2 separate regions of the Homo sapiens genome follow, and region 2 is linked to region 1. The links come from fine-mapping of genetic effects on gene expression. Tissue or cell type: whole blood. Region 1 holds a variant in brackets; the other region holds the start of a gene. All regions are shown on one strand. Distances are from middle to middle. Region 1 overlaps ZNF664-RFLNA (ZNF664-RFLNA readthrough). Region 2 holds the start of DNAH10OS (dynein axonemal heavy chain 10 opposite strand).

The links. PIP is the estimated chance that this variant, and not a neighbour inherited with it, causes the effect.
Region 2: DNAH10OS starts here. The variant in region 1 is fine-mapped to the expression of DNAH10OS in whole blood (TOPMed, PIP above 0.99).

Annotation. Positions count from the first base shown.
Region 1 is chr12:123,983,420-123,988,797 of GRCh38, forward strand. The region is part of intron 2 of ZNF664-RFLNA (ZNF664-RFLNA readthrough); the gene reads left to right. ZNF664 (zinc finger protein 664) reads left to right here. Exons shown (of 5, transcript NM_152437.3): 3 at 4,624-4,719. Among named protein-coding and RNA genes, the nearest start is that of ZNF664-RFLNA, 13 kb to the left of the region's middle. RefSeq lists a silencer at 594-653 and an enhancer at 844-913. The variant G/A (reference allele first, on the strand shown) is at 2,781.
Region 2 is chr12:123,932,597-123,937,922 of GRCh38, forward strand. DNAH10OS (dynein axonemal heavy chain 10 opposite strand) reads right to left here and starts at 2,388. Exons shown (of 2, transcript NR_187476.1): 1 at 1,469-2,388. DNAH10 (dynein axonemal heavy chain 10) reads left to right here. Exons shown (of 79, transcript NM_001372106.1): 77 at 735-915; 78 at 2,025-2,170; 79 at 2,739-3,118. The coding sequence ends at 2,885. CCDC92 (coiled-coil domain containing 92) reads right to left here. Exons shown (of 5, transcript NM_025140.3): 5 at 3,030-5,234. The coding sequence ends at 4,462.

The DNA.
Region 1 (5,378 bases):
GAAATTCAGTAAAGCTATTCTAGAACTCATTTATTTTTCATACCCCTGAAAGTTCATAAAATAATCATAGGTTATTTCCATATCTTATTTTGCAGTGTGTTCTATGATATTGTGACAGAGCTTGTGAGGAAGCCTTTATAGCCAGAGCAGACCCCTGTCCCAAAGATGATGAACTCTGCCACTTAGGTTAACAATACAACAGTTCATAGAAATAATTGGAACCATTTTTCTTCTGCAGAGTAAATCCTGTATGTCCCTCTGGCTTTCAAAATATCACTTTTGGATGTGTAGTTCAAATATGTTTAGGATTGAGCCTGATGGGGGTTTAAGAATATTTCATTGATTCAAAGTACTCGGTGTTGGCTAGAAAACATGTCAAGTTTCTCAGTTAACCGATGTTCAATAAATTACTTTTAATACTATAACTTTACATTGTGATAGGACTAGGACCTTGTGGTAAGCCTCCAGACTCACAGTTAGAATCAGAGAACCTGCACAAAGCGGGTTGCATGCATTTTCATGATGCTTGGCAACTAGAGGTAGTAACCCATTGTGACATTGATTTCAAGTCCTAACTCCTTAGTGTGAAGAGCCGAGGTTTCTGAGCAGGTGTTTGAGTGCCCTCTGGAGGCCTTGTGAACAGTTGAAATGTGGACTCCTAGCAAAGCTTTCTTTCACAGCCAGAGTTGAGAACCAGTGGGCGAGATGGTTGAAACTGGTGTGGATGTTAGGAGCAGAGGAGAGGGGAGATGGAACTCATGGGAATGAACTAGTGTTTACAAGAGCTTGCCCGGCCAACTGATAATACTGGGTTTATGCAGTGAGTGTAGAACACAGAGGCCGTAGGGTCACAGAAGGAGCCAAGGGAGTGTGGCCAGTAATGTCCAGTGGGATAAAGAACAAAAAGTGCCCTTGGATTGGCCAAGAGAAGGCCGACAATGAGAGAGGAACCTCGGTGGTGTGGTGTTGGATTGAGGCATGAGTGGGAAGTGAAGCAATAGAAATCTGGAAAAATCAGTCTTTAAGAGGTCTGGATGGGGAAATGGAGGGTGGGGCCAGGGAGACAGGGTAGCTAGAGAAGGCCTGGGATTAAATGCTGTTTTTCCTTAAGGTTGGGGGAGACTTCTGCATTGTGTTTAAATGCTGAAGGGAAGAAACAAGCACAGAAAGAAAACAGTTGAAAGGGGTGTGGGGGCCGGGGAGGAGGAGAGAGTTGGTTTCAAAGTTCTTTGCCTGGGAGATCTGTTGAGGGAAGAAGTTGCCTTTTATAGGGACTTTGAGTTTGTCAAAGTAGTGATTTTCAGTTTATCGTGGGATGATGGGGAAATAATTCTAGTAGGCAGTTGGAGATACAGGTAAGAAGAAAAGACTGTGTTAAGAAACTGTGGCATCATCATCATGGAAATGGTCATCATTCCAGCCAAGCAGGTAGTTGAGCTAAAAAATGGAGACAGGACATACTGTATGGAGGACTCCTATATTTAGGCATAGGCATGTGAGATGGCAGACACAATCAGCAAGGCCAGAGGAAAAGTGAGAATGTGCAGGGAACTGGGAGCCGAGGAGACCGTAGACTAGGATTCAGGGTGAGGCAGGAGGAACGGCCCCAAGATTTGACTCTGAGAGCAGTTTTGTAGTGGGGGTGGGGGTACAGAATGGTGTGTGGGAGGTGCACACAGAAGGTATTATAGATGCTGTGGAGGAGCTCAGTAGTGAAAGTGAGAAGAGTGAATTGGTCTTAGTCGGGGGATGGCTCCAGAGAACACATGTCACTTATCTGTGCATATGAAATTAGAGCTGTAATCAACAATGACTCTAGAAAGGATTATTTTTGCTTTTTTGTTTTTAACACCATCATCTCAGAATATAAGATCTAAGTTTCATGTAACTTTTGTGCCACTTCCTACTCTTCTCAGATTGAGAATCTGACCAGAAGGAAGAAAATGTCTAGGTCTATTCATGACATTTGAGGGAGTTCTTGCAGGAGAGAGTAAATGTGACTGATTTTTGATTTACTATTCTGACACACGTCAAATGTTAAATCCTTTAAATCTATGAGACCATTTGCTATCATAAATGACATTTTAAAAAACTTCTTGGTAAAACTAATAGTATGGCTAATAGAAGTTATTTGGCTTCACTTATTTAAAATATTTCGTTAAGAAAAGATAACAGATTCCTAATATCAGAAGTGGTAAAATAACTGTGTTTAAATCTGGGAGGTGGGATTTGACCTCTCACTTTAGACTGAGTGCCCAGTTTGAGCGGCCAGGCGTACAGTTTAAGCATACACTTATCCAAGGGGTGGAATGGCAGGTTCCAGCTTAGGCCCAAACACGTCCGCTGCTGTGGGACTGGTGCGAAGATCTGTGAAGGCCTTAAGCCATTAAACTTTTGGAGGCCTTTACTATGTCATATCAAACATTAAATCACCCATGTCCCACATAAAATTAGCTTGTACAAAACCATATGAGTTAAGCTTTGATTGGCTATAGACATTTAACATTTATTAACTTTAATTTTGCAATTTTCTTTTCATGTTTTGCATCCAGTAATGTTTTTTTTCAGATCTGAAACATTTACATAGGTCTTCGAGATGCTCATGAGCCTTAGGGACTGTGCCTATATACCTAGAGATAAGACATCCCAGTTCTGCTGGGAAGTGGACATTGGGTATGTCTAGGCATGTCTGGCGGGGGGCTGGAGGGGGTGGGCTTGCCCAGAATCTGTTTGTTTGTGGCACTGAGGCACCTCCTGGGAAAACTTCATCTTAAGGGGGA[G/A]TTGAAGGAAGTGTTTTAGTTAGGGATTTTTTGTTGCAAAGAACAGAGTTTCATTCAGACCACTTTCTGTACAAGGGGCTATATTGGAGGATGCATGTGGATCAGACCCATGAGGAACTCAGGCTGTCCAGAGACAAGCCACAGTCTTCCCATGGACAGTGAGGTCTCTCACGGCATCACTCATTTCTTTGTGTCTTTCTCCTCTTGCTGCCATCTGGCTTGTTTTTCCCTCCTCTGTATGTCTTTTCTAACCTTTTAGCTCCTCCTTGCTTATAGATTCTACTTCCTCATGAGTTTGGTTTGCTGTGATTTGATGACCTCCGCAGTCATTTTGCGGATCATAACCTCTCAGCTTCATCTCTCACAGCTGATAACCTCATTCTCTCAGTATTGCTTAGATTCCTGAGAGAGAGGGAATCTGATTTTGTTTTGCTTTTATTGTTGTTCCAAGCCACATCATATGTCAGAGTTAAGCTCTTGGGTCAGATGTCTGCACTTGGTCTCAGAAGTGGTCATGTGGCCGATGGCTGCCTGGGCCTACCCTTAAAGCTGAAGCAGTTCCCATTAGTAGGATTTGTAGGCTAGCAGGCACCATGATTGGCATGTATAGTTCAGTAAGGGAGGAAAAAACCTGGCCCAATATCAAGACCACTTGAAATTCCTCCAAATGTATTCCTGCCCTTTAAAATATTATCCTGCTAACAGCTTTCATTCTAAGTTGAACCTTTATTCCCACAGAGAAACTAAAATAGCTAAATGTGTTGAAAGCATTTTCACTTTTCCATTTTCTTCCTGTTTTATTCAGTCTCTGACAGTGCAGGGCCACTCAGCATAGTCTACAGGACTCTATTTCTAATGTTAGTGATTTCTGCTGAAAATGATATAGCAACTTCAGATAGCTATTAGCAAGATGGATCATTCTAACCACATGCCTTTCACATAATCCTTTCCCCCAAAGCTCTGGGGAGCTGTAGAGGCATACTGTAATCCAGCACTGTCCCCAGATTGACAACAGCTAGAAAAACATGTAAATGTCCCATCCACATGTAGATACGGCAGCAGTGTGAACCTAAGTTCCTTAATATATCATAACTCCCAGGGGAAAGTGAAGTTCCCCAAACTTAAAGCTAGATCTTGAGATCTATACCTAAACTTCTCTGAACAATTATAGAATATAGCAGAGGCGGGGAGGTAGTAGATGGAATAAATAAAATAATGATAATGATAGCTTTGTTGAGCCCTTGAAATTTGCCAGGCAGTGTTTTAAGTACTTCTCATGGATTAATTGATTTAATCCTTAAATTACCTTATCAGATCAGCTGCCTTTATTATCTCCATTAACTCATTCTTAACCTCCTAGGTGAAGGTTACACAGCAGGTATGCAGTAGGGCCAGGACATGAACTCACCCAGTCTGACTCCAGTTTGTGCTTCTTCAGTACCCTGAGAGACTGGAAAATCCGTGAAAAAACACTATTGATTGTTTATTCCCTGGCATTTTAGCCAGTCTGAGTCAGTTATCTTATACCTATGAACCTTAAACTCATTTTGGATCTGGTTCCCATCACGAGGCTAATTGTGATAATGGGATACCTATATCTTGGAGGGAAGTTGTGCAGAGTGCCTGGATTTTCCTTTCTGTGGTTTCTCAGATTTGCTCATCCCTTCTTTGGACCTCCATGCCTTGAATCCCATATATTTATATAAATCCCAGATGTAAATAGGTCTGTCCTATCTTCTGAGCTGGGACCCCACGTTTATAGTAGCTAGTTCATGAAAACATTTTGTGATCCTAAATTCTCTATAAATAAACCCATTTTTCTCTTTGCATTTCTCCCATCCAGCAGGATCCTAAGGCCTTTGTAGTCCTTCAGCCACTGTGGGCCCTGCCTCTGCCTGTTCTTCTGGAATGTCTTGGGGGTTTTGATCCTGTCACTGTGGTAAGTTTTCCCCTTGTTTCACCATTTGTCCTAGATGGAGAATCCCCCTTGAGTATTTTAAGCCAAAGCTGTCTCTAGAATTTTTTCTGAGCATGTGCCCTTTGGGCTCAGTGAGGAAGCAGCTCTCCGTGCACGCTCTTCCTGACCTCTCGCCTTTATCTGGCATTGGATTCCCCAGATCTTGGACCACCTTCCTTACTCTAAAGATGTCAGAAACATTTTTGTCCAACTCTTTTTGTTCCCTGGGATCTTCATTTTCTTCTTTCCATGTGAACCATTGGTTATTAAAACTTTGTTTCAGTTGTCCCATTTTCTTCTGCCATCTTGGAGGCCTTACATGGATTCTAGATCTCATGCCACCCTTTGTCTTTTTCTTCTGTTGTTCCTATCCTCACCGAGCTATCAAAACTTTTTAAAAGCTCGGTTGCTTTGTAAATTTCTGGTGTTTTTTTTTTCCCCAACGTCTGAATAATAGCTTTTTCCTTAAATATGAGTTCCTGAAAATCTTCTTACCTGAGGATTATGGTTTCACATTGATCTGTGCAGACTTGATTCTGAGTGTCATTGTGTTCCCAGCACAACTATTTTTTTACTTTGTTTTCTCTTTGGATTTGTTCTTTTTTAAAGATTTTTTTTTCCCTTCTTTGGCTCAACTCAAG
Region 2 (5,326 bases), 51 kb before region 1:
GTGCATTTTAAATTTTGATAGCTCTTGTTGGATGGTTCTTAGAAAGGCTGAAACCACAGTCTATGAGAGTGCTTCTTTCCTCACTCCGCTGCAATGCTGCGTTCTTAACATTTTGGATCACTGTCTCCCTGATAGGTGAAAATAATATCTCATTGTTTTGCATGTCTTTAATTATGGTGAGTCTGAGCGTATTTTGCATGCTTTACAGACATTTTGTGTTTGTTTTTCTGTGAATTGTCCTTTTGTATCTGGATTTCATTTTTAGTGAGGTCTCCATCTTTCTCATTGATGTTTAAGAGCTCTTTGCAAATCAAAGAAATTAGCCCTTGGTCTGCCAGTGTTGCAGGTATTTCTCCAAGCTTGTCATAAGTCTTGACTTTGCTTACGGTATTTTTTCCACAGAAAAGCTTTACATTTTTCCGTAGTCAAACCTACAAGGCTTTTCTTTTTTATCCTGGGCTTTGTATTTCCTACTCCACGATATGAAAGCATTCATTGGAGATGTGGCCCAGTACTTTTGTGGTTTTATTTATTTTTATATCTAAATCTTTGATCTACCTGGAATGTGGCAGTCCAGATTGTTTTTCTCAGACAGGCGGCCAGTTGTGCCAACGCCATCTTTTGCCACTTAGGTGAAATATGTCTTTTATCATAAACTAAACTTCCAGGCCAGCTTTGACCTGGCATTGGATGGCAGCCCCAGGCTCCCAGCACTTGTCCTCTCTTCTCTCCAGGTGACCGAGAGCGAGCCCAGCGTGATGTGGCTCTCGGGGCTGCACATCCCTGAGTCCTACCTCACGGCGCTGGTGCAGGCCACCTGCCGGAAGAACGGCTGGCCACTGGACCGCTCCACCTTGTTCACACAAGTGACCAAGTTCCAGGATGCAGATGAAGTGAATGAGCGGGCGGGACAAGGTACCGTCAGCTCGTTAGGGATCCACAGCCTCTCACTTAGGATTTCTCTCCCTGAACCACCTCCAACTCAAAGGGACAGGCATAGCGTGGGCCTAAATGGGCCAGGCCATGTTTGAAAGCCAGCCTGCTGCAAATATTTCCTGTGTCTCTGCACTGCCCATGTCTTAACACCTCTGAGGGTGGATACGGAAGTTTCTCTTCCACTTTCTCCGTTGAGACCTGGGGTCTATGGCAGGGGAGACCTGAACCATGTTCACTCTGCTAGCTCATGGCAAGTGGGCTCCTAGGTCAGAATTAGCTCTTGCAAAAACCATCAGGTGGCTTTCTTGTAACCCCTGACGGGGCCAGGGGCATGGGAGCCACAGAGCAGCATGGACTAACTTGGTTGGAACTCTTTGATTATGCCAGAACTTCAGGTCCCTTAGACATTGGTTACTGACTGTGCAAATGAGAGCTGGAAACTGCTGTTTCCCCGGGTCCATGTTGTCTTAGAGTTCTTTTAACTGCAAGGAACAAAAGCTCTTTTGAGATGGCTTAAGGACTGGGGACTTACGGTAAAGATGCAGGGACTCTCCAGGTCTCAGTGGCAGGGGAGGTGGCAGGTGTCCGGGCCACCACTCTCTCTGGGGCCACAGGAGTGTGTTCCTCTCTTTGCACATCTGCTGGGTCCTCCTCCCCGGAGACCACTTTCTCTGTGAGGCTTCGACTTCCTGCTCCCCAGCCACTTCGGCTCACAGGGTAGCTGGGGTTGCCATGGTGCCCATTCTGACTCTGGGACCATGCATCTTTCTAGCCTGGGGGCCCAGGGTGGTCTAAGTCCGTGGGCCTTGATGCCCCAGGAATGAGGATTCCTGGGGGAGAGGCCACCGCCCCACACCCATTTCTCTGGGCCATGGGGCAGGGCCACAGGGTCTCCTGTCTGGGCTGCTCCTCCACAGAGGGAAGGTGGGCAGGACAGAAATGCTGGAGAAGGGCCTGGGCTGTCCCCAATGCGCTGGGGAGGAGGCCAGCCAGTGGCCTGTGTGTCGCTGTGTGTGCGCCTGATAGAGCCACTCCGTGGCAGGCTGTGCATGCTCCAGTTGTATCCAGTCTCTGCCTTGTGTCCCTAGGATGCTTTGTCTCAGGACTGTACCTGGAAGGTGCTGACTGGGATATAGAAAAAGGATGTCTTATCAAGAGCAAACCCAAGGTGCTGGTTGTGGACCTGCCGATCCTGAAGATCATCCCCATTGAAGCCCATCGCCTCAAGCTGCAGGTGAAGGTCCCAGCCCCTCCTCTCTGACACCAGGGCCCTTCCTCTTCTGACTGTAGTTATGGCTGAGGTGGTTTCCAACAGTCCTACTTTTTAAAACAGGGGTGCCTAAGCTTTATGGGCTGGGGAGAGTCTTGGAGCCGTGATAAAAGCTACGGATAGCTGCTTCCTGGAAAAGGCGCGGCTGTATGTGTGTGTGGATGCCGGTCCTTCCAGAGGTGTCAGGCTCAAGCTGTGATCCTGTGGTCTAGACTAACCAAGGGGAGACTCCCTCCCTTCTTGCAAAATGCTGCAGACATTGCCTGAGTCATAAAGTGGTTCCCGCTGGTGTGGACAGCAGATGTCTTCTGCTCTGCCTGGGCCAGGACCCACTTTTAACCAGGGTGTCAGTGTGAAGCCAGGTCCCCGTGAAGCTGGCGGAGGGTGGCCCTGAGCAGCCCCAGCCTTGTGCGTGTTCTCAGGTGCAGTCTTGCACAGGGGCCCCTGCCTGTCAAGACTTACACTGCACCTCTGCCTTTATCCCTCTGCACCCTCTCTCCGTGGGGGCATCTCACCTGCCTTTCCCTTGCAGAATACTTTCCGGACCCCCGTCTACACCACCTCCATGAGAAGGAACGCCATGGGAGTCGGCTTGGTTTTTGAAGCTGATCTCTTTACCACGAGGCACATTTCTCACTGGGTGCTGCAAGGAGTATGCCTCACCCTGAATTCTGATTAACCTTTGGGTGAAGAAAACTGCTTAATGAATTCGGAGCCTGGGGTTGTCAGAGTGATCGGGTCTGCTGTCATTTCTTGGGGCCTCTCAAGAGGCAGGAGGGGGACTGACACTGATTTTTCATTTGAAATCAGCCACTTAAATCTCTTTCCATACAAATTAACCTGAATGGTTTTGTTTTTAATACTACTTTTTAAAAGGAATTTATATAATCAAAAAGTAAATATTGGAGAGTATTTTAAGATGTGTGGAGTTTTCTTTTCCTTCTCAGAGAAAACACTTGATTAGGCAAAAGTGCCTGGCATACATAGCATTGGCACAAGTGAGAATCCTAATGTAATTTCCAAAGGTGTGTTTTCGATGATCCAGGTCTGTTTCAGCAGATGCTCCTTTTTGGCAAGAAGGGCTGATGATGTCGGGCACAGAGCAGAAGTGACCAGTCACCTGGAGCCACTTCTCCCCCTTCCAGAACTCTCTGGCCCTAGCTTCTTTGGCTCTGACCTGCTACGGCGACTGTGAAGTTGTTGAGCTTAGTGTTTAGTTCCTGCATGAGCTTCTACCCCCAGCCTGCCTGGGTCTGTGTGGGGTCAGGTAAGGACACAGAACCTCCAGGACCAGTGGTCACTGGGCACCCCTTCCCTCTGTGCACCATGAGGCTGGCCTGGAGCCCTGGCTGGCCACCTGGAGGTGAGGGGTGGCTTCACTCCATGAGGGAGGAGAGGGGCTAGCACGGGCAGCACAGTGGGCAGGGGCCATCAGAGGCAAAAGCAGCTTCCCACAGAAGCTCAGGAGCGCAGCACATTCTAAGGACTAGCTCTGGGCCGGGAGGAGGCCGGAGTCGCTTCTGGGACCTGTGATTGCTCTCCCTCCTGCAGTCTCCTAGCCCTCCTTCAGGTGTTTGTTTAATAAAAGACACAAAACAGAAGGAAGGCAGGTTTAGAAAATAAAGTTTGTTGGGATCTTAAACATTTTGGATAAAACTAACAAAAAAATATGAACACACATTCAGGTTGTGGTGCTATGAGGAGTAGCGTCATCTTATTTAGTTCCTTGAGATACACGCACGGCTGCTCGGTGATCGGTGCCGCCCTGGGAAAGGTTGGTCAGGAGGTGACAGGGGTCTCCAGGAGGAGCTCGGGAGGTGACAAGGGTCTCCAGGAGGGAGCAGGGGCTGCTCGGCCAGGCTGCCCTGGAGCTTGAGGATAAGGTCAAGGTTGGTATGTGTTGCTCCGACTTGAGAATGAATTAGGTGTGTGACTGTGTGGCATCGTGAACATCAGTAGTGACGCAGCCGTGGCCTGGGCTTTGCCTGCAGCGCACTTAGGTTACACGGAGCGGGATCAGAAGCAAGCGATTCGGCACACAGGCGTTTGGCCACAGCAATTAGGAAATACATATTCTGCGGCAGGGACACGATCATATTTTGGTGTGAAGAAGAGGGCAAGAGAAGCAGAAGGAGAATGGGTCGGTAGGTGTGAAAAGTGTTTGGCATGCATGGGATTAAACAGAAAAGGTGTGGCTGAGATTTCCCAGTGGTGCTCACAGTGCATGGACAGCGCGGGGTGGGGCACGGCGGGCTTCACACAGTTCTGTCCGTCCCTGAGTGCTTCCTCACCACCTTGCCTCCGTTCACCTGGTCGACCGCCAGGGTCTTCACCTCGGGCTGGGCCTGCGGCGGGGTGGCGTGGTGGATCCGATGTGCCACCCCGACGTGGGCCTTGTGCGGCTTTTCGCGGGCCGGGCTGTGCTGCTCGCCGCTTCGGTCGGAGGCGATGGGGGGGATGACGAGGGGCCTCTCTTTGATGAGGTGGACCTCGGCGGACTCCCTAGCCAGCAGAAATGGGGTGGGGTCGGGCATAGCATCCACTGGTTCCCGCAAAAGGAGTTTCCTGCTCTCTGCCCCGAATCTGTAGACCTCTTCAAATTCCGGGTGCAAGGGGGCTGAGAGGCTCTTTTTCATGCGGCGGCGAGGCGTTTCGGGTAGCTTGTCTTTGGGGGGCGCTGGCTTGTAGCTGGCCAGCACGGGGCTCCCTGACGGGCTGGCATCTGAGGTCCCGCTGGAGCTCATGAGCTTCTTCTTGGCGGCGTGCAGCTGGGAGGTCAGGTAGGCGATGGTGCTGGCCCGCTGCTCCAGCTCGCTAGACAGCAGGGTCAGCTTGTGACTCTTGGCCTTCAGCTCCTCCAGGTACTTCTTCTCTCGCTCCTTGATGGTGTTCTCCAGCACTGTGATCATCGCGTTTTTCTGCTCCAGTTCTTTCAACAACTCAGCATTTTCGTTCTCTTTCACTTTCAGTTGGGCTTCCAGCTCTTCACATCTTTTCTTTAATTCACTGCTTTTAGAAGTCCCGTCTCCTACAAGAATAAGCCGAGGAAGCAGGTGAAGAACTCATTAGACTGAGGCCGAGTGGTGAGGCCTATGGGGCAGGCGGACCTGTCTGGTGGGG